Regions from separate parts of the Homo sapiens genome. Here all the other regions are linked to region 5. Evidence: fine-mapped QTL for protein levels in blood plasma. A gene starts in region 5. Each other region holds a variant in brackets. All regions are shown on one strand. Distances are between the middles of the regions. Region 1 overlaps MDGA1 (MAM domain containing glycosylphosphatidylinositol anchor 1). Region 2 has its middle 15 kb from the start of MDGA1. Region 3 overlaps MDGA1 (MAM domain containing glycosylphosphatidylinositol anchor 1). Region 4 has its middle 59 kb from the start of MIR4462. Region 5 holds the start of MDGA1 (MAM domain containing glycosylphosphatidylinositol anchor 1).

The links. PIP is the posterior inclusion probability: the model's chance that the variant is causal. Protein levels are from antibody-based Olink assays in UK Biobank. Linkage for the fine-mapping came from a reference panel and not from the study's own genotypes, which makes the PIPs less certain.
Region 1: its variant is fine-mapped to the plasma level of the MDGA1 protein (UK Biobank, PIP above 0.99).
Region 2: its variant is fine-mapped to the plasma level of the MDGA1 protein (UK Biobank, PIP above 0.99).
Region 3: its variant is fine-mapped to the plasma level of the MDGA1 protein (UK Biobank, PIP above 0.99).
Region 4: its variant is fine-mapped to the plasma level of the MDGA1 protein (UK Biobank, PIP above 0.99).

Annotation. Positions count from the first base shown.
Region 1 is chr6:37,646,348-37,651,448 of GRCh38, reverse strand. MDGA1 (MAM domain containing glycosylphosphatidylinositol anchor 1) reads left to right here. Exons shown (of 17, transcript NM_153487.4): 8 at 1,044-1,340; 9 at 2,183-2,467; 10 at 4,125-4,276; 11 at 5,074-5,101. Among named protein-coding and RNA genes, the nearest start is that of MDGA1, 49 kb to the left of the region's middle. RefSeq lists a silencer at 2,644-2,743. The variant C/A (reference allele first, on the strand shown) is at 2,104.
Region 2 is chr6:37,710,544-37,715,644 of GRCh38, reverse strand. No RefSeq gene overlaps it. Among named protein-coding and RNA genes, the nearest start is that of MDGA1, 15 kb to the right of the region's middle. The variant C/AC (reference allele first, on the strand shown) is at 2,703.
Region 3 is chr6:37,672,891-37,677,991 of GRCh38, reverse strand. The region is part of intron 1 of MDGA1 (MAM domain containing glycosylphosphatidylinositol anchor 1); the gene reads left to right. Among named protein-coding and RNA genes, the nearest start is that of MDGA1, 22 kb to the left of the region's middle. The variant C/T (reference allele first, on the strand shown) is at 2,980.
Region 4 is chr6:37,612,160-37,617,260 of GRCh38, reverse strand. No RefSeq gene overlaps it. Among named protein-coding and RNA genes, the nearest start is that of MIR4462, 59 kb to the right of the region's middle. The variant G/A (reference allele first, on the strand shown) is at 2,331.
Region 5 is chr6:37,696,003-37,701,088 of GRCh38, reverse strand. It overlaps MDGA1 (MAM domain containing glycosylphosphatidylinositol anchor 1), which reads left to right and starts at 3,206. Exons shown (of 17, transcript NM_153487.4): 1 at 3,206-4,344. The coding sequence starts at 4,278. RefSeq lists silencers at 2,095-2,164, 2,185-2,254, 3,121-3,250, 3,271-3,340, 3,401-3,530 and 3 more and enhancers at 3,853-4,582, 4,583-5,086.

The DNA of each region.
Region 1 (5,101 bases), 50 kb after region 5:
ATTATACTAACAAGATCACTGGACCTCAGCTTGCCTTGTAGAGCTATTTACAAATAAGAACTTTGTATTTAAATTATATTTAATGTGGAACATGGGTACATTTTAATTTGTTTGATGTAATGTGCAATGGGACTCATGGAAGTCTTCAAAAGACCCTCTGATTGGGCAATGTGTTGGGTTGAATTAAGTTCTGCCGTGAATAAAAGAAATTAACAGTGTTATTAACAGAAATAACCCTAATTAACAGTGGCTTAAACTAGCTAGATGTGTATTTCTTCTTCATGTAAAACTGTGCTGGTGAGCAGTCAGGGCTAGTATAGGGGCTCTGCTCCACCAAGTCCTCAGGGCCCCAGGCTCCACCTGGCTTGCTCTTCCATCATCCTTAGCATGTGCCACGTTGCCCATGATGGCAGTTCCAGCTGCAGCCATTATTCTGCATTCTTTTCTGCAGGAAGGAGAAGAGGGGTACAGCTTCTTTTAAACGCCCTCATTTTCCTTAGTATCCCATTGGCGAGAATTTAGTCACGTGGCTGTAGCTAACGATAATGCAGGCTGGGAGATGTACTCTTTTTTCTGGGTGGCTATAAGCCCTGCTGAAAACTAGGTATCCTATTACTTAGGACGAAAGGGCAAGGATGTAGGACAGACTAGCAGCCTGTGATAACACACTAGGGCAAGAGAAGATGAAGTCTTTAAATAGGCCAGGGCCCGGAGTAGGACAGAAGGACCAAGAATGGATATATTTAGAAATGTTTAAGAGGTGGAATCCCTAGTACTTACTAGTGCTGGGGAAGAAGGAATATAGGCCAGGCTGACTTCAGGTCTCTTTTTGAGTTGGGAGACACTGAGGTGGAGACCCAGGAGATGGAGAGGATTTGGAAAAGTGAGTTCTGCTTTGGAAATACTGGGGGACCAGTCGGAAGTCTGGGATGGGAGAGAGAGGCTTGCCCCTAGCGGGAGGTAAGCAGGAGCCAGAAGGCAGAGCCCAGTGGGGAGCTCTAACTCCGCTCCTACCTCTCCGCTGATCACCATCACCCCCACAGTGCCGCCCACCATCAGTGTGCCCAAGGGTAGGGCCGTGGTGACCGTGCGCGAGGGATCGCCTGCCGAGCTGCAATGCGAGGTGCGGGGCAAGCCGCGGCCGCCAGTGCTCTGGTCCCGCGTGGACAAGGAGGCTGCACTGCTGCCCTCGGGGCTGCCCCTGGAGGAGACTCCGGACGGGAAGCTGCGGCTGGAGCGAGTGAGCCGAGACATGAGCGGGACCTACCGCTGCCAGACGGCCCGCTATAATGGCTTCAACGTGCGCCCCCGTGAGGCCCAGGTGCAGCTGAACGTGCAGTGTGAGTCCACCACGCCACCCGGACTACCTTCCCAGCTTTCCTTCTGGCTCCCAGCCGGCCTGTCCCCTCTTCATCCTCTCACCCACCCCAGTCCAACCAAACCCCACCAGCTACTCCTGATACCCCTAATGCTCCTTGACAGCCCCATGCTGTAGGACACGGAGGTCTGTGTTCTTTGCTCCATTTCATCAAGTATCTCCCATCTTCATTTTCAGGGACCCGGTGAACAAAAAAAAAATTACTTGATTTTGCCAGGTGGAAATGGGATTTTGAAGGAGGAGGAAGGACACTCAAGGGAAACACTGTCTGATAACAGGATGATGAAAATTACCACCATGTGCCAAACACTGTTCTAAGAGTTTTAATGCACTAACTCATTGAACCCCCCACAGCCCTATAATAGATTCTATTATTCCCCCATTTTTACAAACAGGGAACCCGAGACACGGAGAGGTTGAGTAACTTGCCTAAAGTCTCACAGAGTCAGGGCTGGGATTTGAACCCAGCCCATCTAGCTTTAGAGATTATGCGCGAAACCCCTGCGTTATCCTGCATTTCATTGCTTGGGGTGGGCGTGGGGTGAGGGGCCCACTTAGGGCGTGACTGGAGGCCGGGTCTGGGAAGCATGGCTGGAGAGAATGGCCAGGAGGGAGTGGGTATCTGCAGGTTGGGAGGTAAGATCGTGGCCATTGGAGGGATGTGTTGCGAGTGTGCATCCGCCCTGGGATTTTTCCTGGCGGGGGCTCACGGCATTAGAGGCGAG[C/A]GCGTTGCCTCCCCACGGGCCACTCCTCAGGCCCCACTCGCTGGGGAGAGGCCCCGCTGACCGCCGCTCCCGCCCCCAGTCCCGCCGGAGGTGGAGCCCAGTTCCCAGGACGTGCGCCAGGCGCTGGGCCGGCCCGTGCTCCTGCGCTGCTCGCTGCTGCGAGGCAGCCCCCAGCGCATCGCCTCGGCTGTGTGGCGTTTCAAAGGGCAGCTGCTGCCGCCGCCGCCTGTTGTTCCCGCCGCCGCCGAGGCGCCGGATCACGCGGAGCTGCGCCTCGACGCCGTAACTCGCGACAGCAGCGGCAGCTACGAGTGCAGCGTCTCCAACGATGTGGGCTCGGCTGCCTGCCTCTTCCAGGTCTCCGGTGAGCGTCCAGTGGGTCCCGCCCCACCTACCACGCCCACCAGGGGCCAGGCTCTGCCCCAATCCCAGCCCGGGTGATTCTTTGCCTGGGTGGGCCTGCTGGCCCCCTTGAAGCCCACCTACTCCAGGCTTAGCCCCGGCCTTTCCAAGACCCGCCCACGCCAAGGCCAGGCCCCGCCCCGTGCCACTCGGATCCCAACCTGGGCCTCCCAGCCCCGCCCTCCAGGTGCGGGCCACGCCCCTCCACTCACACCTTCCCTTGAGGTTGAGGCCTTCGCCTTCCAAGGCCCGCCTATGCCTATACCAGTCCTAAGCCCCGCCCATTACAGCTCAGCCCGCTTCCTGGGCGTGTGACAACCGCGCCGCTTTCAAACATAGCCTTCCCACAGGCCTAGGCTTCGCCTCTCTACCAGCACCCAAACCAGGCCTAGACCCCTTCGAAACCCATCCAAGCCACGTCTGGGCTCCGCCTGCGTAAGGCGTAGGCTCCACCCCTTTCAGCTCGGTCCAATCCCAGCTTCCAGCCGTTCCAGCAGCAGGCAGCATCCCTTCCAGCCCCGCTTCCACCAGCGTTAGAGCCCCTCAAGCCCAGGCCACAGCCCCATCTCAGCCCCTCCCCGCTCGTCCTTGACCCCTGAGGCTACAGATGGGGAACCCTTCGGGAGCCTGAGGTGTAGTTTAGGGGAGAGAAGACGCCCCTCAGCAGCTTCTCTGGAACGTTGTTGCGGGGCACTGGGCCAGACAGCACACGTTTCGTGAGCTGGCACCCTAGAGGTGCAGGCCCTTCGGTGCCCAGAAACCCCTCTCAGCCCCAGCTCTTCGAGGCATTCTCAGGTGGGCTGTCAGGGGCTGCAGGTGGCAATGGGTGGGTCAGAAAGGGGTGGAGGTGGTGGTGAGGGAGGCCTAGGGGAACAAGAGGGGCTGCCTGGGTTGCTGATGGTCTTCCTCCATGTGAGGAGAGCCGCCTCCCTGCAAAAGCTGGTGGCAGCGCCCCTGGAGCAGAGCCTGGGGATGTCTGTCCCCCATTCAGTGGCATACACAGCTTTCCCAGCAGCACCCAACTGACTAAGTGGCCCTTCAGCTTCTGTTTGAATCCCTCACTCAACAGCAGGGGGATAGGACGGCAGGTCACTGGCCCTTTCCCCACTCCCCTCCACCCAGCCCTGCCAGCCAGAGGCCCCTGTGACATTTCCCACCTCCTTCCCTTCTCCCCTGTTCTCCCACACTTTCCCTGTCTCCCCACTCCTCTCTCTATTCCCCTCCTCTCCCTTCTCTTTCTTTCCTCCCAATATCCCTGACTCTTGTGTCTTTCCCCCAATCTCTTTCCCCATCTTCCCTCATATCCCTTTTCTGTGTCTTCCTAAATTTCTCTTTACTCTGTTTTTTTCTCGGCCTGCCTTTCTCTTCTCACCAATATCACCTCTTGGAATTTCCAATCTCCCTGTCTCCATCTCCCACTTTCCCTCCTATCCCATCCTCGTTTTCCCCAATCCCCTCTTCTCCCAACGTTCCCCACCTCACAATATTCCCTTTCTCTTTGTTTCTCCGTCCCCTCTCTGTTTTCCACCTCATCCTCTTGTTTCCCTTTCCCACACCTCCTCTCTTTGTGTCTCCCCTGCACCCTCCACGGCCCAATGCCCCCCTCCCCGCCCTCTTAGCCAAAGCCTACAGCCCGGAGTTTTACTTCGACACCCCCAACCCCACCCGCAGCCACAAGCTGTCCAAGAACTACTCCTACGTGCTGCAGTGGACTCAGAGGGAGCCCGACGCTGTCGACCCTGTGCTCAACTACAGACTCAGCATCCGCCAGGTGGGCCAAGGGGGAGCGGGGGCCTGGGGGCAGGTGGAGTGTGGTGTGGCTGACCCTGGAAATGCTCATCAAGGCCAGAGGAAGGGTCGGAGATGGGGCTTAGACACGTTGACCCTTTTAGAGGCAATTCTTCAGGGGCAGGGAGAAAAGTTTTGGACATAGCAGCAAGAGATTGGAGGTTCTAGGGATCTGTCCCTTCTGGACCCAGACTCTAGGCACAGCTCTGAGAATTGGGCAGGCAAGGGTCTGCTGGGTTCGTGGGGGAGGGAGCCAGCACTGCTCACAGAACATAGAATCAACTCTTGGGTCAAGAGCTTAAGAAGGGTATGGGAGAGGGGAGGGTAAGTCTCATCCAGGGGGTCTCCACCATGCAAAGCCAGGGTCTCTCTGTTGTTCTCGTGCCCAGTCTGATTCCATGTGCTTCTGCTCAGCCCAAGAGGTGATTGGTGGGAGGGTAAGAGTGTGGCTCAGGGGCAGACTGCCTAGACCAGAACCCAGCTTTGTGTGAGCTACAGCAAGCTACTCTCTTTGGCCTCAGTTTCCTTATCTGTAAAATGGGGGTAATTATGATTTTTGCCTCATAGGATTGTAATTTTGAGGATTAAATGACTTACTAATGGCAATATACTTAGAACAGTGCCCCACACTTATTAATGTTTCAGTGTGTTGCTGTCATCATTTTTATTATGAAGACAGCCCTGGGAGGTGGGCACGGAAGGGGTGATTGTCCTGTCTCACAGATGAGGAAACTGAGGGCCTGACTTCCTAGGCATCTGGGAACTCTCTGTACTTAACAGTTGAACCAGCACAATGCGGTGGTCAAGG
Region 2 (5,101 bases), 15 kb before region 5:
GCCTCTTTCCTGGGTCTGTCTTCCGAAGGTAGATCACACTGCAGTGGTGTACCCTAAAGCCTGAGAGGCAGCCCAGGGGTGTTTGTTGGTGGGGGATGTGAAGAGAACTTGGGCCGGTAGGCAGGAATGTCTACACACAAGCCCAGGGGCCCCTTGCAGGGCAGGACAGGGCCAAAGGGAAGAAAGAGAAGGGACAGGGGCTGGAGGCAGATTCCCTGCACCACCCTTTTGTAGCACAGTTCTGAGGATTCTGAGTCTGAACCTGACCTTCCTGGCTGTTATAAAAGTTTATGTGTCAAGGTGTAGAATCTGTGGAAGACTGTATTTTCTAAAAATGGTAACGGCAGCGTGTCATCTTGCTTGCTCTTTCAGATCTTTACATTCCCCACCAAGAGGCAGAGTCCACTTCCCCTCCCCTTGCATCTGGGCAGCACTTTGTGACTGCTTTGATGAATAGAGTGTGACAGAAGTGGTACTGCATGACTTCGGATGCTAGGTCATGAAAGGCAATCCAGCTTCTTATGGGTGTCTCTTTCTTAGGAAACTTGCCCTTGGAATCCATCCATCATGCTGTGAGGAAGTGCAGACCAGTCCTCGTGGAGAGACACATGGAGAGGGACCGAGGCCTCCAGTCAACTACCAGACATGTGAATGAGTAAGCCTACAGATGCTTCCAGTCCCCAGTCTCTGAACCTTCCAGCTGAGGCCTCAGCATTACAGGGCAGAGACAAACCATTCAGGATCTGACTTCCTGATCCACAAAATCTAGGAGCTTAATAAATGTTAGTTTTATACCACTAAGTTTTGGCACTTCTTATGCAGCCGTAGTAACAGGAACAGATTCTAATATATTTCATTTAATAGATTGTGAGCACTGAGATTTTGAAATACTTGGATATAGAGCATGAGAGTCTCCATTTGTCCTCTTTCCCTGAGCCTCCCAAATGTTAGGGACAATCTCTAGAGTTCAGTGCCCAGTGTCAGTAGTATAGGCTGCAGAGTCTGTGCCAGTTGTGGGGGTAGATGGGCATCCACAGCAACAGGTCTAGGGTGTCATTTGGACACTGTGTTCCTGACTGTGGTTTCCAGGCCTCATCCTCTGGTCCTCCTAGAGATTGTGTGAACTACCTGATTTCCTTTGTAAATTCCTTTTCTGCATAAAACAGCCAGTGTGATTTCTGTTGCTTGCAACTTAGAAACCCTGATTCAGACAGAAACTGTTTCCAAGTTATTTCACTTTGATTCAGTTCAAAAGACATTAACTATCTGGCACATGGCTGGCCATATTTTTGGCAATAGTAACAGGAAGATGAAAAAGACAGAATCTTATATTAGATAATAATAGCTAACATTTATTGAGTGTTTGGATTGAGCTAGACACTGTGCTTGGCACTTTTCCTGCTACATCAAGAGTCTCACAACCACTTTCTGTGGCAGGTACTACCATTCGCCTCCTATCACTAGAGATCAGGAAACTGAGACTCAAAGAGGTTAAGTAACTTGCCTAAGATCACACCATTAGTAAACGGTAGAGCTGGAATCAGAACCTGTGACCATCTGACTGCAATACTTGCTTTTAACCATCTGCCTCCAGGCAACATCTGTGTTTGGTGGGACAACACACAGATAATGTCATTATAATTTCAATGAGTTAAGAGTATTATTCTAGGAGCATGAAGGAGAAGCATTTAGTGGAACTCCAGCAAGACTTCTGGGAAGAGATGTTGCCTGAGCTGAGTCATGAGGGATGTGGGGGGCTGGTCAGATGAAGGAGGATGGGCAGGACACTCCAGACTGTGCAAACCGCATGTGCAAAGGGCCAGAGGAATGAACTGGCATGCCCAGAGTGGCCATATTGCAGTGCGTGGGCTGGGAGCAGAGGGGAGGAAGGCAGGGCCCAAATCCTACAAGCACTGGTGCTAAGCTGGAGAGTCTGAACTTGATCCTGTAGGCTGTGGAGGGACACAGAGGGATTTTCAGTGGATTTGTGATTCAGAAGTCTCCTCTGCCAGCACAGGGGGTTGGCTTGTAACATGTGTGGGCTGGAAGCAGGAAGCCGCTGCATAATCCAGGGGAGAAATGAGTAGGGCTGCACCGAAGCCTCAGAAGCCTCAGTGATGGGAACAGGAAATGGATGGAAGGATGGAGGAGATGAGAGTTGGAGGAGGCAGAGCTGCTGAATTTGAATGTGCATTTGGAGAGGAAAGGAAGAGCCCAAGGTTAGGTTCCAGGCGTCTGCCCGGGTGATGAGAGAATGACGAGCCATTCACCAAGATGAGAAACATGGGAGAAGGAATGGGGTTTTGTGGTTTTTTTTTGTTGTTGTTGTTGTCTTGTTTTGTTTCTGAGATGGAGTCTTGCTCTGTTGCCCAGGCTGGAGTGCAGTGGCGCAATCTCAGTTTACTGCAAACTCTACCTCCTGGGTTCAAGCGATTCTCCTGCCTCAGCCTCTTGAGTAGCTGGGATTACAGGCATCCGCCACCACGCCCGGCTAATTTTTTGTACTTTTAGTAGAAACGGGGTTTCACCATGTTGGCCAGACTGGTCTCGAACTCTTGACCTCAGGTGATCCTCCTGCCTCAGCCTCCCAAAGTGCTGAGATTACAGGAGTGAGCTACTGTGCCCAGCCAGGGTTGTGTTTTAAGCAGATAGCTGGGCAGCCTCAGGGGGCTCAGCCAGAATATACAGCTCATCATCGCCAA[C/AC]AATTACCAAGTGCAGGCAGCACTCCTGGCCCTGGGCTAAGGGCTTACCTCACTGGATGTGGTGAAGATTCAAGAGTTAATACTTGTAATTGGTGTAGAATAGTGCCTCTCACAAAATAAGCACTCTGGAAGAATTTGCTCTTATGTTTACTACTGTTAGCCTTGTTTTACAGACAAGCAAACTGGGGCACAGAGAGGTGATGTAACCTGCTTAAGGTCACACAGCTAAGAAGCTGGCAGTCAGACTCCAGAGAAATGCTCCTGGCCCCACGCCACACTGTCTGCAGGTCACTGAGTGGTAATCAGAACCATGGGATGGATGAGCTCATGAGGGGGCAGTGTGACAAGGATAAAAGCAGGGGCCAAGGTTCTGGGCCAACTAGGGAGACCCTGGAGCTCACAGTGAACTTGTTCACCACAGAAACGGTGCTGAGGGTCCTTTGCTGGAAAGTGGGGATAAACATAGCACCTCTTAAAGGGCTGTGATGAGGGTGGAGGGAGATAATGCTGCACATGGAACCCGTAAAGCTTAGTTATTAGGATTAGTGGTGCTTGTGTTTGCATCTCCAGTCACTCGGAACCTCAGTTTCCTCCTCTATAGACTGGAGACCCTAATGACATCCCAGGGTTCCCACGATTACATGAGCGAATACGTGACTGCCCTTTGAGGACTGTGGAGTGTTCTACAAAGGTGGTGTATAGTCGTCCTCCAGCAATGGATTGGTAAAGGAGAGTGGGAGCCTGCCTTGAACTGGTGGACAGCTCAGGCCCTCATCAGGCAATTGGGTGAGGTTGGCAGGGTGGCTGGGAGGATGCGGGCCAGGCCTGGGCTGGCACCAGCTCACCAGGCCTGGGAGGAGTGATTGAGGCTGATAGACTGAGGCCTCCCCCATGCCTCTCCTATCTCAAGTTGAACAGTGTGGCATTCAATGCTGCTGCATCCTGGATGTACTCTTGCCTCTGCATGTGTGTGTGTATATATGTGTGGACATGCACACATAGGGGGAGCCCCTAACTTCCAGAGTCAGGAGGTGGCAGGTATGAAGTTTTCGTTGGGAAACCTGCTTCTTGAATGAATTCTATCCTGACCTCCTCTGACATTCAGTAAATGTAGTTGGAGTCCTTTAGAGCATTTGGTCTGTTTGGGTGTCTGTCCTGATATCTGTAAGCCAAGCCTGTGCATGTAGGTCTGTAGGGGCCGAGTAACAGTGCCAGTGAGCCCCACAGGGAGTGATGACAGGATGACTGTCGTCGCCAGGTTGCCGTGGTTATATACCGTGGCATATGCTGGTGGTGCCAATGGTGATGGTGTTGAGGGTGGGTCAATGGTGGCCTCTTGGCTGCCCCTTTCACACACTGCAGCCATTTTTCCTGCAGGTCGGGCCTTTCCTTGAGAAGGAATGGTGATGAGGGGGAGGCTGGGAGGAGAAGCAAGGAAGAGGAGAGGCATCCTTATCTCTCAGTACCTGGTGTTCTAACAGCAGCCCCTCCCTGACAGCCCAGCTTTTGCAATATCACTTTTTTCCTCCGGAGAGCAGTTCACTTTTGCTGGTATGATCAGGAAGGTAACAAGTGGGGAAAACTCCCTCCTACAGCATTTTAATCTAGGTGGGGTGAACACGCTCTGCCTGGCCTCCCTCCAGACCTTTGCTTAAATTGTCCCCACCACCTGGAACACCCTCCCTTGAGGCAGACATCTCACCTCAAAGCCTCAGCCTCAAATACGTCTCCTTCATTAAGCCTTCCTAGGTCTCGCATGATAGAACTGATTCCTCTGTTCTTGGTGTGCTCCTAGGTTGCAAAGGCGATTGTGTGGTAGCTGTGGATGGCTTTGAGGCCAACAAATCTGGGTGGGCCAGATTGTGTTACACCATAAATTGGATCAATGTCCTTCTCTGTTTTAGACTGTCAGCCACTATGGTTTGAGTTTGTGTGGCCTGAGACACCAGGGCCTGCTACAGTGGTGTGTTGGTAAGTGTTCAACAACCACCTGTCTGGGGGAAAGGTCTTGCTTTGTAGCCTGAACGTGGAATTGAGAAGAGATGCTGCCAGCTTGTGAGCTGGTACGACTTAGAGTACACAGCTGCTGATTCATCTCTCTGAACCATAAATGTTAACATCAGCTAGTGCCTAGCACATAGTAGGCCCTCAATGCATGTTTGAATGAATAAATGATTATATAAATGAATGAATGAGGCATTGGGTGGGTAGGTAAAATTCAATTAAGTGGCTAGAGCAGTGGTGATTCATGGCTGGCTTCGGGGTGGCGGGGGCAGGAGAGAGGGGGTTATATCTGTTGGGCAGAGGCATTGGTGGCCGGCACCAGGCAGATCCAAGATGTCACAGCCCACCACCCAGAAGGTCCTCCTGCCTCCCCTAGGCTTCCCCCAATGCCAAGG
Region 3 (5,101 bases), 23 kb after region 5:
ACCAGGTAACTGCATATGCAGAGATGGCTTTAGGGGTTGCTAGAAGTTGGGGTGCAGCACCCCTATCTCCCCCTGCAGCTGGGTGGGGTGCTTTCCAGGAGCTGGAGCTCTACCCAGGGACCCACAGTGACCCGAGGTCGGAGGGGGTCAGAGTCTGCCAGGCTGTGGGAGACCCCCAGAAATGCTGTCCTTCCTTCCCTCCCTTTCTGTGCTGCTATGGGCCAAGGCCCCACCAGCTCTCAAGCTGCAACATTGATTTGCTTTCATTGTTGTTATTGTTATTATTATCCACTTAAACAACTTCATAGAAAAAAAAGAAGCCCAATGACCATCAAACATTAACCATTCATTCTAAACTCCCTGCCCATACCTGTCAATATATTTTTACATAGCAGTAAACAGTGGTCTGTTCTGCTTTCTCGGCTGCCTTTATCTCCTACACACGTCTCCTGCTATTGACTGAGCCCTCAGACCTGTCACTTTAATGGCCGCAGGACACCCCCTGCATCGATGTGCTGGAGTTCGGGTCACCATTTCTCTGCTGCCGAGCATTTGGGTAGGAGCCAATTTCCCTTTCTTTTAAATAGCTCTGCCATGAATATCCTTATGTGAATTACTTTTTCCTTTTAAATTATTTCCTTGGGGCCTATTCCCCAAAGTGAGACTGCCTAACAGGTCATAGGATAGGAACAGTTTTATGGTTCTCATTTCGCACTGCCGGGTTGTGTGACGGAAAGTTTGAGCTGGTGTTGTGCACAGCCCGGCCACAATGGATTTTATCATTTTAATTTATTTTCACTGGTTTAATAGGTGCATTATGGCCTGCTTTTTAACTTCCAATTTGAACCTCCTGAAGCCATACTTGGGTCGTTCGGCACCTAATAATAATAAGTCCTGCTCTATGCAGAACTTTACAGTTTACATGATACTTTCTTAAATGTCATCTCACTTAATAAGACACTGTAAGCCTAATGTTATTGGCCTCTGTTTTATATGGGGAAGTGGGGGCTTAGGCAAGTTAAGTGCTGGAGTGGAGCCTCTAACTAGTTCTTGCAGGTTTGGTTGCTTTTCCTTTTTTTTTTTTTTTTTCTGTTGAGATGGAGTTTTGCTCTTTTTGCCCAGGCTGGAGTGCAATGGCACAATCTCAGCTCACTGCAACCTCTGCCTCCCGGCTTCAAGCAATTCTCCTGCCTCAGCCTCCCGAGTAGCTGGGATTACAGGCACAAGCCACCACCCCCAGCTAATTTTGTATTTTTAGTAGAGTTGGGGTTTCACCATGTTGGCCAGGCTGGTCTTGAACTCCTGACCTCCAGTAATCTACCAGCCTTGCCTCCCAAAGTGCTGGGATTACAAGCATGAGCCATCATGCTGGGCCAGGTTTGGTTGCTTTTCTACTGCACTCTGTGGAAAGGACTCCCCTGCCACCTACCTCCATCCATGCTTATGTGAGGGCTCAGGGTCCCCAGATGCCCACTGCAGCCCAAATCCAGTGCCTTAGCCTCATTTTCTCCCTTTGGCCCCTACATTCAGGCCTGTGCCAGAACCCCAAGCTGAGCCTACTTGAGAGTTGGGGTTTAGCTCTGTGGGCCTTGGAGAGAGCCATGTTCCATCCCTTTGCCTCACTGGGCTTTTTGATCAGGTGGTGCTTTGGGGGCTCCTTGCTTTAGCAAAGCCACTGCCATCCCCACTTCCTGGCCCAGGCTCTGCCTTCTGGTTTGGAGGCCTGGATCTGGCAGTGTGTCTCCGGTCCTACCCTGGTGGTGCCCTATCCCTAGCGACTGTGCCACAGACTCCTAGAGACTGGGGCCTATCAGGATTCACCCTGGAACAGGAGGACCTTCTCAGAGCAGACACACTCATGAGTCTGGTTTTATGTCAGCCCCTTCTAACTGTACTTCTAGCGTATCTACTAGGCAGCATGCACTATGCGCAGGGCATTCCATTCTCAGTGGGTCTCACATTCACAATAGGGAGCCCTGTTATGTCCATTCTCTAGTTAGGAAGCTGAGGCTGTAGACTAGATGGGTAAATGATTTGCCTCAAGTCACCCAGAAATTACTGTTTCCGTGGGCTTGGTTCAATAGGTATGCTTTGACAGGTGCAGGCTTGTCAGATCTAGACCCTGGGCTGCTGCCAGGGACCAGTGCCAAGTGAACCACAGTGATGGGGTCTCCAAGACCAGCAGAGCTTGGTGGGGCTAGAACTTTCCTTTCTGGGATCCAGGCAAGGAAATTTTACATGAGTAACAATGAGTAACCCTGTGTCCATGGGTCCCACATCACTGGGCCAGGAAGGCTCAGACCTTGGGATCCTAGGAGTCATTCTCTGCCCTGATGGGTGGAAGCTTCTCTTTTCCATCATCTTACATATTCTCACAGGGAGAGCTTTTCCTCCCAGTGATTATTACTACTTTCAGCCCACCTTAATGTTCTGATCTCTCAGGATTACAAACTCCTGGAAATCCTTCAAAGTAGACCTCATTCGGTTTCACATTTTTTTCTTGCAAGACTTTGGAATAGGTTCCCAAAGCATCCTGGGCTATATTATTAAGTGGAAATGGAACTGAAATTTATTAAGTACCTGCTGAGTACAAGTCACTGTGTGATGTACCCGATGTGCATTGTCTCATCGAATCCTCACAACAACCCAAAAGTTATCTCCATTGAAGCCTGAGATGTAGTACTATCCCCATTTTGCAGATGAAGAAACTGAGGCTAAAGGAGGTTAAACAACTTTCCCAAGGTCACTTGGTCACTGAGTAAAAGGTAGCGCACTCCTCCCTACCCCTCACCCTATGCCGTTGAGCAGCCCTCTCAGATTTGCATTTAAAGCCTCTGATCAAGCAGTGCCCAACTTGTCCTGCCTTTACTGATTGGAGATGACCTGTGTCCCCTCATCATTAACAGTTTTTTGTTGTTGCTGTTTTTGCTTTTTTGAGATGTAGTCTCTCTCTGTCGCCCAGGCTGGAGTGCAATGGCA[C/T]GATCTCGGCCCACTGCAACCTCCACCTCCCAGGTTCAAGTGATTCTCCCGCCTCAGCCTCCCAAGTAGCTGGGATTACAGGCGCCTGCCACCACACTCAGCTAATTTTTTGTATTTTTAGTAGAGACGAGGTTTCACCATGTTGGCCAGGCTGGTTTCGAACTCCTGATCTCTAATGATCCGCCTGCCTCAGCCTCCCAAAGTGCTAGGATTACAGGTGTGAGCCGCCGTGCCCAGCAATCATTAGCAGTTTTAATCCTGGCATCCTGGGACCCACCAGGAGAAAGTCCCTTTATAGTTTTCATCAGGAGACCTAAAAGTCCTCATTAAAGGGCTTTCCTGGTGGCCTGTCCAGACACCCTCTAGTTCTATAAGTGGGTGTGCAGATTAGACTTCCATTGATAGACAGTGAAGATTCTATGAGCATCACCTGCCACTTTCAATACCTGTGTGCCTTCCAATGAGACCAGGATGTGGGCGCAGTGGTGCTGAACATCCCCAGGGAATGGGACATAATGGACCAGCCGCCACTTGCAGCAGAGGAGAGTTGTAAGGGTGCCAGCCTCTCCCAGAAGCTCCAGGCGCCACAGTGGCAGGCTCTGCAAATGGAACAAGGCCCTGCAAACTGTAGCAGGCTTGCATCTGACTATGAAAGCAGACCTTGTTTTTGCATTCAATTGTGGTGGCGGGGTGGCGGCCTGCACACTGATCCTTTCAGCTGTGGCTGGTTGCTGTATTCAGTGACAGCGCCCTTGTACCCGGAGGTCAGAGACACATGCACTCTGGTTAGGGAGAGATTTTTGCAGCCAAAGGGAAGGTTGGCTGAATATGGGTTTGGTTTTGATGAGCAGAAAAGGCCCTGTGTCGGGGAACAGGCTTTAATATGGTTTGCAGCAGGGAGAGGGCAGAGGTTCTTTGCCCAGAAGGGCTATGCCTCATTTGGCTCTGTGTCCCAGCACTGAGGGCAGGAGATTTCACATAATAGGTGCTCAGAAAATGTTACAGAGCCAATTAATGAATCAATGGCAAATTAAAAGGTGATTGTGTGTGCCCTTTGAGGGACTGGGAGGACAGGGAGCGAGAGGGAGGATGGGAAGGAAATGGACTCGAACATGAGTCTAATGATCGGAGAGAGAATGACCAGAACTGGATGGGCCAAAAGTCTGTTGCTGCTTTCCCTCAAGATGCTCTGCGTTCAGGCAAGGCTGGAGGAGATGGTGTGAGTGGGTTTGGGCTGTTTCAAGTCGGCTTTCCTAGCACAGAACTGGAGCCTCCCCCAGCCTCAGAGCACCTCCGAGAAGTCACCTGGTCCACCCCCGGCTGGTGGTGAACAGAGGACAGGCTCCAGCCAGCTCTGCAGAGAGCGGGGCTGTGGTAAGGGCAGAGCAACTCCCGATGCAGTGAGCACAGAAGGGCAGGGCTAATTTTCCCAAGAGGCCCACGCTTGATGGCTCACAGTCTGTAGAGAGGCTTGGAACATCATCCCTGGCAGAAGGAGGCCCAGGCGGAGCAGGCCAGGTGCCTGCCCAGGAAAGCCTCCTCCCAGGCCCCCGACCGCCATTCTCTGAGCAGCTAATTAAAAGAGAAAAGCCTGTTAATATTTCAGCACTATTAACTCCACTAAATTATTAAGTGTTCATTTGCATTACATGCATAAAAGGATCAATAAACACTTGCATACCAGGATCTGGGAGGGCGAGAGGTGTCACGGCGAGGGAGGGACGGTTTCTGAGGATGCTGCACAGCATCGGTCCCACCAGGAATGTGGAGGCTCCGTGCTGAGCTGTGAGCCCTGCACTGGGCTAGGCACTTGCGAAGTGGAAATGCATGGCGGTTAGCATGAAAGACGGAGAGTCAGACAGACTCCAGACCAATGGGGTGTCCTTGGGTAACTTATATAACCTCGCTGAACCTCAGCTTCCTCATCTGAAAAGTCCGAACCATAGTAGGCTTGTTAGGAGCAATAAATATGATAAAAGATATAAAGCACTGAATATATTGCTGGCAGAGTAAATGTCAATAAAGGGTAGCTATTGCAGTTAATGTTATATTATGGGGATGGGGGGTGGGGGGAGACCTGAGACAGCACTAGTCTCTAGTTCACAGCAATCCCTCCCTGCTC
Region 4 (5,101 bases), 84 kb after region 5:
TTGGGCAGGCTCCAGGAGTCAGGGTAGGCTTCCTAGAGGAGGTGGCATTTGCAAGCCTAGCAGGATGCTTTGGGCTGCTCCAGAGAGAGGTCTTGGGCAAAGGGGTGCAGGGACTAGTAGTCCGAAGTTGGGCTGGTGCATTGCAGGGAGTAAGGGTGAAGGGACCCGGGTAGGCCTGACAACAACTGCTTCAGTGGCCAAGTCAGAAGCCTGTGCCACCCAGGTCAGGGAAGTGAGCTGTGGAGACCCTGTAAGCAGGGCCAAACTTCACCCTGCTGGCACTAGAACATTGGGGATTTTTTAACTAGAGGTGTAGACAGCAGGAAACAGCATTTCTGGAGGAAGGATGGATATGGAATACTTGTTGAGCACAGCAACCCACAGCCTAAGCTAAGGGGAGGAGCAAAGCAGCCAAAGTCAGGATCTCTGTTCACCCAGTGCTCCATCCCAAGGCAGCGTGGGACTTAGACTTGGAACCGAGCCCTCCAACTAGTCTAGCCACCTTGTGGGAGCAAAGCCTATCACAGCACCAGACACACAGTAGGTGCTCAACAAAGAGGGGTAACTATTACCCAGCCCACTGGGATGACAATACTGCCAGGACTTGGTAGGCTGGGGTGGTGGATGGAGGCTGTACAACTGAGTACTACCAGGACCACCAGGAGGTAAGTCCGGAGAGTAGAGATGTCTGGTTGGGTCATTGCTCTAGCCCCACAACCCGGCACAAAGCAGGGGTTCACTACATTTTTGGTGACTCTGCAAGGTAGGCCTCACGATCCCCATTTTACAAATAAGAAAACTGAGGCTGGCAGAATTAAAGGGAGTTGTCCAAGGCCACACAGCTAGAAAGTGAGGGAATCAGGTTCTGCTGATTTTCCAAACCCAGTTTCCTTAACCAGCACCCACTGCTACCTGCCTGGAGATGGGCAGGGGCCAGAAAGATGCTCTGCCTCCCCCATCAGACTCAAAAGTGAGAGATCTGTTTCATTCTCTCTTTCCCCTTGTTGGTCCCTGCTCAGGGTTCGAACTCTTTAGACCCGGATGGAGGCTAGAGGAGATCTTCAGAGGCCACCTCGATGACCTGAGTCCACGCCAGGCCCCCGTCACTTCCTGGGGAGTCTGAGGAAGGCAGCCTCAGCAGCAGCGGGTGGCCTGCTAATTAGGACACGGTCTTTATGACTCACTATTCTGAGATGTCATTTTCTAGACTTGGGGTTGGGGGTGGGAGTGGAGAAGGCACACAGAGTTGTTTTTAATTACATTTGGTTTGCTAATTTCTGATAGAAAATAAATATTTACCGGGAGCCATATTTCTTCATTTCACGCCGGCTGACTCCTGAGTTTATCGGGAGCCCAAACAGACACCTCCTGCTCACCTCCCTGCCTTCCCAAGTTCCTACCCCCGCGTGGAGTCACACACCAGGAGCCTGGAGGAGGGGGCGGAAGGGAAGAGATGGAAGGAGTTGGACAGGCAGACAGGGGCAGGCCTGGCTTCTGTGGGCAGAAGGGCTAAGTTCCAGTATGAATAGAGGGAAGAGGATCTGAGGACCTGGAGATGCTCCTCCCTCCTCATCCTCACATGGGCAGTGGCCAGCTCATGGATGGGAGTCTGGAGGTTGGGTGGCCTCAGCTCTGTGCCAGCCAGCCCCGAGCCTGGCCTCCCTTCCTGGGCCAGCTTCCTCCTTCCTACTGGGATGATCTCCAAGGACATTTCTGCCTTGCACATCCTGGGATGTGGTGATTCTGGCCCCCAGTAGCATCCCTCCAAGGACTGACCTCTGAGGCCTTTTTGGGTAATGTGGATGGGCAGGAAGATTTAAAGGTCATCCTGTCTGCTCCTTGGCCTCCAGATGGGCCTTTGCAAGGGAGTGGGAGGAGGGAAAGGAGTAAGGAAGGAGGGAGGGAGAAAAGGGATGGGGAGGAGAGGAAGGAAGAGAGGGCTGAGTTCCCCTGGCAGAGGGTAGGGGGCTAGGATGTGGCCCTCAGGAAGTAAGGACATCTATTCTTCTCTCTTCTGAAGGTCCAGGTCTTTGGGTTTATAGGGCACATACATCAAAGGGGGTGCCTCTCTGATGCTGGAGAGGGAAAAGGATAATAGAGGCCCCTTAGTTGAGGGTTGGGGGCCTCAGCAGAGTGGAAAGATGGAGTAGAGAGGGTTTCTCGATCTCAGCACTCTTAGCAATTCTTGATTGTGGAGGTTGTCCTGGGCACTGTAGAATGCTTTGCAGCACCCCTGGCCCTACACAGTAGATGCCAGTAGTATCCACCCCCGTCCCCAAGTCATGACAACCAAAGTTGCCTCCAGACACTGTTAGATGGTGTGTGTGTGC[G/A]CACATGAGCGTGCAAAGTTACTCCTGATCAAGAAGCCCTGTTTAGGATAAGGGGAGGTGAGGCTGGGAAAGAGAAGAGAAAGGGAGGAGCCTCAGGAGGATGAGGAGGAGCTTGTGGGGACTCTGGGCTGAGTGGTGAGGGGGCCCCCTGAGAGATGGCGAAGAGATAAGGAGATTTGGAGGCTGTAGAGTGTAGAGTTCCCTGCCCCCAGCCTGGCTTTTAAATCCATGTTAAGCCACGATTGTTTTTTTTTTTTTCCAATTACATTTCAATTTAGCTCAATTACTTTTCCATTATTGTTCAAGCGACTCAGTTTTAATTGAAGCTGCTGGTTCTTATCTCTCTCATTCCCCCACATAGAAGGAGGGAGGGAGAAGGAGGGTGTGGGTTAGAGGGAGCCCAGGTTGGTGGGGTTCTAAGGGCAATGGGCATCTTCAGCAGAAAGATCAAGGCTTCCAGAGGTGGGGCAAACTAGGAGCTCTCTGGGGCATCTCTGAGTGGTCAAATAAATCTGCAGGGAGAGCAGGAGAGCTACAAAGAAGGAAGGGTGTGATCACGACATATATGAAGTACCAGGCATTGTTGTAGCCAAGGTACATTTAGTCAGCACAGTCCTGCAAGGGATGTACTATTAGCATCCCCATTTTACAGATGCAAAAACTAAGGCCCAGAGAAGTTAACGAATTCATTCTGGGTCATAATCCTGATAAATAGCAGAGTTGGGAGGCAGTTCAGTCCCCTGGCTCTTCAGTTTGCATGCTTAACCCCAGACTACACTCAAACCCTCTCGCATGGTTATGTCCACTGGCCCCTCCCAATACCTGTCCCCACTCCCAGACATCTCCTCCTTCCCTCCCTCCCAAGCTCTGAGTCTGGCTCAGTTTCTTCCAGGTCATTTGGCTTTCCATCTTTCTCTAATTTCTGTCCAGGCTTCAAGACCCAGCCCTCCCTATCTTTTCCAGGAAGTCTTCCCTGATTGCCCTTACCCTCATGTATTCCTACAGCCCTAAGCTGCCATCTACCTACCCGTGTTACTAGCTTCTGTGGGGTTGGGGGTGGCAGCTGGGAATAGGGTGGGGGATTGGGAAGGCAATGCTTTGGAGTTGGACAGATCTGAATTAAGCAACCTGCAAGCCGTGTGACTTGGGCAAGTCATTTAAGCTCAGTGAGTCTCCATTTTCTTGCCTGTAAACTAAGTGTTAATAACACCATCTCTTGGTAGCGGGTGTCCTGTGAATTAAATTAAATGAGATGAAGTCTGTAAAGCACCAGCAAGGGGTAAGAGGCCTAAACAGGGTAAAGGGGTTCCTTATGTTGACCCTGAGATGCAGGTACAGTAGGATCAGTCCCCCAACTTCACAGATCAAACAAATGAGCCCCAGAGATGTGCTCAAGTCCTGTAGGGAGGTAGAAGAGAGTCTGGGCTTGGGAACACATTTTAACCCTGAATGTCATCAATTCTGTGGCAGAGGAGACGGGGGAGGAGGGGTAAAAATAGCTGTGAACTTTCTGACCCCTGGGGGTGAGGAGCCTGGACTCTTACTCTTCCTTCACCTTCCTTGCTCTGCCTGGGGGCCCAGGGGAGTCAGAGAGGGGCCACCCTGTGACTCTCATGGTGGATGAGTGATAGTGGTAAAAGCAGGCAAGCCCCCCTGCCATGCATTTGTGGTGTGTACATGGTTTTCTCAGTTGAGAGATGCCTTCCATTGAAGTAACAGCATATTAGACCAAAAGGGGTGTCCCCTAGCAGGCTGGAGTGCAATGGCGCGATCTCGGCTCACCGCAACCTCCGCCTCCCAGGTTCAAGTGATTGTCCTTCCTCAGCCTCCCGAGTAGCTGGGATTACAGGCATGCACCACCACACCCAGCTGATTCTGTATTTTTAGTAGAGATGGGGTTTCACCGTGTTGGTCAGGCTGGTCTTGAACTCCTGACCTCAGGTGATCTGCCCGCCTCAGCCTCCCAAAGTGCTGGGATTACAGGTGTGAGCCACTGCGCCCAGCCTGGTTTTTCGTAAGTAGCGAAAAGTCTGGAGGGGTTGATTCCTGAGCTGGTCAATGACTCAGGCTCCTCACAGATCCCTCTGCTCTGCAACCTTCAGTGTGTTCATAGTGTCCATCGCCTCATGGTCACAAGATGGCGGCCAGAGCACTTCATCACAGCCTCACAGACAACATCCTGAGCTGCAAGGAAGAAGAAAGAAAAAGAGAGCTCTCCTCATGCACTCTCTCCTTTCATCAGGGAGAAAATTCCTTCCCAGAGACTGTCCAGCAGACTTTTGTGTCTCATTGGCCAGAACTGAGTCATACAGCCACCTCTGCCTGCAAAGGAGTTCAGGAAATCCAGTCTCTGGCACCATAACCTTAGGGTGCACCCTTTGGCAGCCTCAGTTTGATGTGGAGAGGGTCTCCTGGAAGATCCCCAACTTCAGGCCTTCGTGGACTTTGATTTCTGTCCCTCTCATCTCAAGCCTCCCTTGATTCGAAGCTCAGTTGAGCAGTATCTGCAAATAGCCTCAGGATAAACAGCTTTGGTGCTTACCTCTCCGGTTAGACGCTTTCATTCCCAAATTAGCTTGGTATTCCCTGTTGCTTTCTCATCTTTTTGAAGCATTTAAGTTTATTTTGTTAACATATATTTTATCCAGCACTTTTCGTGGTCTTTAGGAGGGTTGATCTGAAAAGTGCTAATGCATCGTTACCTGGGACCTAGACTCCAGTATATGGCAAAGAGGAGAGGAATGTCATATTTGGCCCAGACCAGTGACTCA
Region 5 (5,086 bases):
AAGCCTCCAGATAGCCTGACCTCAGGCTCATCCTGTGCCCTATGGCCCATGTCAGGTCTAGCAGTCTAGCTCTCATGTCCCCCCTGCCCTTGGTGCAATTTGGGGGCCAGAGTATTGTTCTCTGTGTCTGTAAAGGGAACAGGAAACAGTTCTTGTGGAAACATTATTTGATACCTAGGCCCTTGCCCCTCTTCAGTATAGAACAGTGGGAGAGGGCAAGGTCGCCGAGCCAAGCTACTGAGGTCAAAGCTCAGTTTGGCCCCTTAGCAGCTGAGTGAGTCACTACATCTTCCTATGTCATTCCATGAGAATAACAGCCCTGTCTTACATAATGGTTATGAAGATTAAATAGTTAATACAGTGCCTGGCATGTGGTGTCAGCTGTTATTCTTATTACTCCACTTCTCTCTAGGAAGACAGGGATCTTACCTAGTTTACATCTGGGGAAACTGAGGCCTAGAGAGGTTAGGACTGGGACGCAGGACTGATGTCTAGGGCTCTTTCCCTTCTCTGAGGTTGCCTCCCATTGTCAGACACTGGGCTGTGTTGAGGCAGCAGGCAGGGCACACTTGGGGGAGGAGACAGCTGAATTTACAGACACACACAAACAGGCTGTCAAGGTATTTACACTGCATACAATTAGCTGCAGAGTATTCACAAGTGGATTAGCTACAGCAAATGTTCAATCCCAGCCTGGCTAACTTGGTCCTCTGTTCCCCCCACCCCGCCATCATGAACCTTCTTTCTCCTCCAGGCTAGTGTGTGAGTTTAGAGAGGGCAAAGTCAAGAGAATGTCAGCTGAGTCAGTGCAGTTCTCTGTCCCCAGTAACTCACCCCAAAGCCAAAGAGGAGCAATTGACTGCTGTTTGGTGTTGGAACAGCTAATTGGAAAATCAGAGCGCAGTTTCGCACGACATGGAGAAGTACACATTCAGCTCAGAATGGGCAAAGCCAGGAAGAGCCACAGTCGCTGTGATCACTCCCTGAGAGCTTCCTGGAAGGGGTAGAGACTTCCAGGAACCCTCTAATAATGGGAAGAGGATGACAATAGAAGAAGCTATCCCTCATCACTCCCTCAATTGGCACCACTTCCTTTTCTGACTGGATGGGGGAGGCGGGAAGAGGCATGGTGGCTGTGTATCTCTGTGGGACAGAAAATGAATTTTTTGCCTTTGAGGTAACAGTCCGGGGCTGGGGAGTGAAAGGATGGCTACCCTGAGGGTATCCCAGGTCTGTGATATCTGGCCATGATGGGCATCATTCGTGAATTCACTGAACATGTCTGCAGCTGGCATCTGCTGGGAGCACCGCACTGAGTCTGGACTTCCTATCAGCCTTGGACCCACGGGGTAGAAAGGAGAGAAAAGACGGAAGAGGGCACAAGGGAGGCGCAAACGAGTGGAGGTGGGCTAGAGAATAGGAATCTTCGGATGTTCTCGGGCTTCCTGAGATGGACAGAAAGGGGGCTGAGAAAGGAAGGTGGAACCCCCCCATGCCACCAGGCACTTCCCGACACCTCCCGCTCCTCTTCCAGCAGTCAGGAGCGCGCGCTCCGGTGGGGCTTAAGCCCTGGAGAGTCAAGGGAGGAGAGACCCAGCAGGAAATGGGCCTGGGGAAGGGACGGTTCATTATTATTATTTTAAAAAAATTTATGTTTCAATTTATATGCAGACTAACCTTTTTGGAGTGTGGAGATCTTTGAGTTTTGACAAATGCATAGAGCCGTGGAACCACCATCAAGATATTGAGCAGTTCCAGGGGGCGAAGGGAGGGGGGGTTCGTAGTCTCCCCGCTTGTTAGCTGCTGCGATTGTCTGCGCTCCCACGGGCCGACCTAAAACAATTCTTGCGCACACGCTGAGATAAATAACGGCGACAGGTGGAGCAGGTGAGATTAGCAGGACCCGGGTTGGGCGCGGGGCGGGATCGGAGGCGCGGGGGAGGCCACCAGCCTCGCTTGCCAGCCTACGCCCCTCCCCGCGGGCGTTTGGGAGGAGCGTTCTCCGCACTCCTGCTCCGCGAGGGCCCCTTCGAGGCGGCTGAGACCCGAGTGCCGGACTCCCGCCGCTGGAGCGGGGCTCGGGTTCGGCAGCCGGAAGGAGGTGTGCCCCCGGGGCGCTTGGGGGCGCCTGAGGTCCCGAGGGGAGGCAAGATGGGAAGAGTGGCTAGCCGAGGAAAATGTGGGGTGACTTAGGGAAGCTCTGGCGGAGGGGTCGTGCGAGCAAACCTGTTGGCAACCTGTGGGCCGCGGCAAGGGCAGGAGCTCTCAGCGCGACCTCTCCGCCAGCTGCTCCGGCCCGGCCCCAGCACCAGACGCCTGGAAAGGGGCGGGGGCCTCTCGAGCCGGGCAGACAGCCTTGCAGACCCACAGCCGCGGCCCGTCTCGCGCGGCTGCAGGACCCCAGGAACCGCAGGCGCCCGGCCTTTCCCTAGGACCCCCGCTTCAGTCCCGCCTCCCCAAAGTGCAAAACATTTACGAAGTGTGCAGTGCCCTGCGGGCATGGGTCTCCGAAGCGAGCGGCCGTGTTTGCCCCGCGGGCTGCTGGCAACGGTGCACCCGGCTCGGCCAGCTAGTCTGGGTGTGCAAGGCTGGAGAACAGCGAGTGTGCGAGCGCGCGGCTGCAGAGCCCCCGCCGAAACCCAGGTCCCTCCGCCACTGTCCTCGGGATAGATGGATCCATTTCTGCTTTCTGACATTTTCCTGCTGGGCGGGGTTGGGGGGGAATGTTAGGGGGCGGAGAGAGGAAGAGAGAGAGAGGGAGAGGAGAAAGGGAAAGAGAGGAGAGGAGAGGAAGGGAGAGAGAGCGAGAGGGAGAGAGAGAGGAGAGAGAGAAGAGAGAGAGAGGAGAGAGAGAGAAAGAGAGAGAGAGAGAGAGAGAGAGAGAGAGAGAGAGAGAGAGAGAGAGAGAAAGAGAAAGAGAAAGAGAAAGAGAAAGGCAGGCAGTCAGCTTCCCCCAGCCCTGTTTTGTTTTCTCTAATTGGTCCTGGGGGAGGCGAGGAAATTGGACAGAGGCTGGGCCAGGCGAGCTGGGCTGCCTTTAATTGGCTCCTTTTTTTAACTGGAGGGGAATCAAACAGGAGAGCGAGCGACAACGGGTGGGAGAGCGAGAGACCGAACGAGGAGACGCGAGGAGGAGGGAGGAGGAAGAGAGGGAGGGAGGCGGGAGGAGCGCGGAATGAAAAGCTCGGAGGGGCGAAAAAGCAGCACAGCAAAGCCCAAGTTGCTGAGCGAGCGGAGCGCTCCCGCGGCCCGGAGCCGAGCGGCCGCCGCGCCCCGGAGCCCGGCCCGGCCCCGCCCGCTCTGGGCCCCCGCAGGCCAAGGCCGCCGGGCGGGGGCGGGGACGACCAACTTGGGGCGCGGCGTAGCCCCGCTCTCCCGAGAGCTCGGAGCCCGGGAGGGCTACGGCCGCGGCCAGACGGCGGGAGAGGAGCGCGGCGAGCGGAGGCGGCGAGCGGCGCCCGCGCCGCAGCCCCGGCCTGGGCGAGAGCGCGAATATTTTTCAAAAGACTCAAACTTTCCTCCTTTCCCCGTTTTCTGGGGCCCTTCTTGCCTGGAATTGCTCTCCAGATTCCCGCGGGGCGCCGGGCTGCTATTCTTCCCCCGGGTTTATCGGCGGCTCGGCTAACTTCACGGACCCGGGGACCCGCGGCGCTCGTCCCTCGGCCGAACCCAGCCCGCGCTGCTCCCCGGATCAGGAGGGCCGGGCCCGGGGCTGCTTCGCCGCCGCGAGTGCTTTCAGCCCGGCCCCCTGGAGTCGGGCCGCTGAGCCCACGGCAGCGGCCGCAGGACTGGAAACAGCAGATTGATTAACTCGAGCGGAGCCCCGGCCTCCCCGACTCCGCTCCGCTGAGGGGCGGCCCCAGTGCGGGGAAACGACAAGTTTGTCAGTCGTCCGTGGCCTGTTGGATCGAAGCGCCGCCTCCGCCGCCGAGAGGTCCCCGGCGCCTAGCATCCCGCGCGGACGGCCCTGGGTACCCGGGGCGGCTCGGCGGCCGGGCTCCTCGGGTCGGGGCGCTGGCTGCTGTGCCGGGCGCGCCGAGGCACCCGGGGCTGGGCCAGCGCCCCCTGCGTCCCCACGCGGGCAGCGGCCCCGCCGGAGGAGAAACACGGGTCGCCGCCACCTCCGCCTCTTCAGTCTCCTGGTCTTCGTCGCCGCTCTCTCTCTCACCTCTCAGGGAAAGGGGGGGACATAGGGGCGTCGCGGGGCCCCGGCGAATGCGCCCCCCGCCGCCTCTCGGGCTGCGCCGCCTCGCGGGGATGAAGCACCGGCCGTGAAGATGGAGGTGACCTGCCTTCTACTTCTGGCGCTGATCCCCTTCCACTGCCGGGGACAAGGAGTCTACGGTAAGAGCCCGCGTCCCGCTCCACCTTGGCTTAACCTCGCGCGGAAACTTTGCAAGAGGCGCAAAGTGCGCGCTGCCGGGGTTTGGTGGAGACCTCGACTCGGACTCTGGAGTGGATGCCCGCGTCCCCGCCCTCTCCAGGGCGCGTGGAGACCGAGCTAGCTGCTTCGGAACACAGGGGCCGGTCGTAGGGTCTGGTGGGAAGCCGGGATGTCAGGAGGAGGCACCCACTTTCCCACACCCTGCTAGAGGTGGGAATGATTAGGAACCCTTGAGAGCACCCGGTCGGCTCGGGAGACCCGGACAGACCCAGTCTAGGACTGGTGCAGCGACTTGCACCGAAACCTCGTCCTGGCTCGGCCTCCGGAGTGGAAGCCAAGCGATGCATGAGCCGGAGTTGCCGCGCGGCTTGCGGGCGAGCCGGCTGTCAGCACCAAGGCCGGGCGGCGGGCTCGCCTTCCCCGCTGTTGCTGCGGCTTCGCTTCTTCTACTCAGGGCTTGACACCCTGATCAGGATGCCGGCATCCCCTGGCCCTGGCGCCTTCGACCCCGGCATCCCTTTTCGGACCTTCCCTGAACCAGTTCTTCCTGTCCCCGGTTCTTGGCTACAAACCCCAACCCCACCTTCCTTCCTGCGCGCACACACAGATACATTCAGCCACCATCCCCAGAAAACGCAAACACGGCACGCACCCACCGGGATACGTGTCCAAACTCTGCCTCCTGCCACGCAGCCTTGCTCC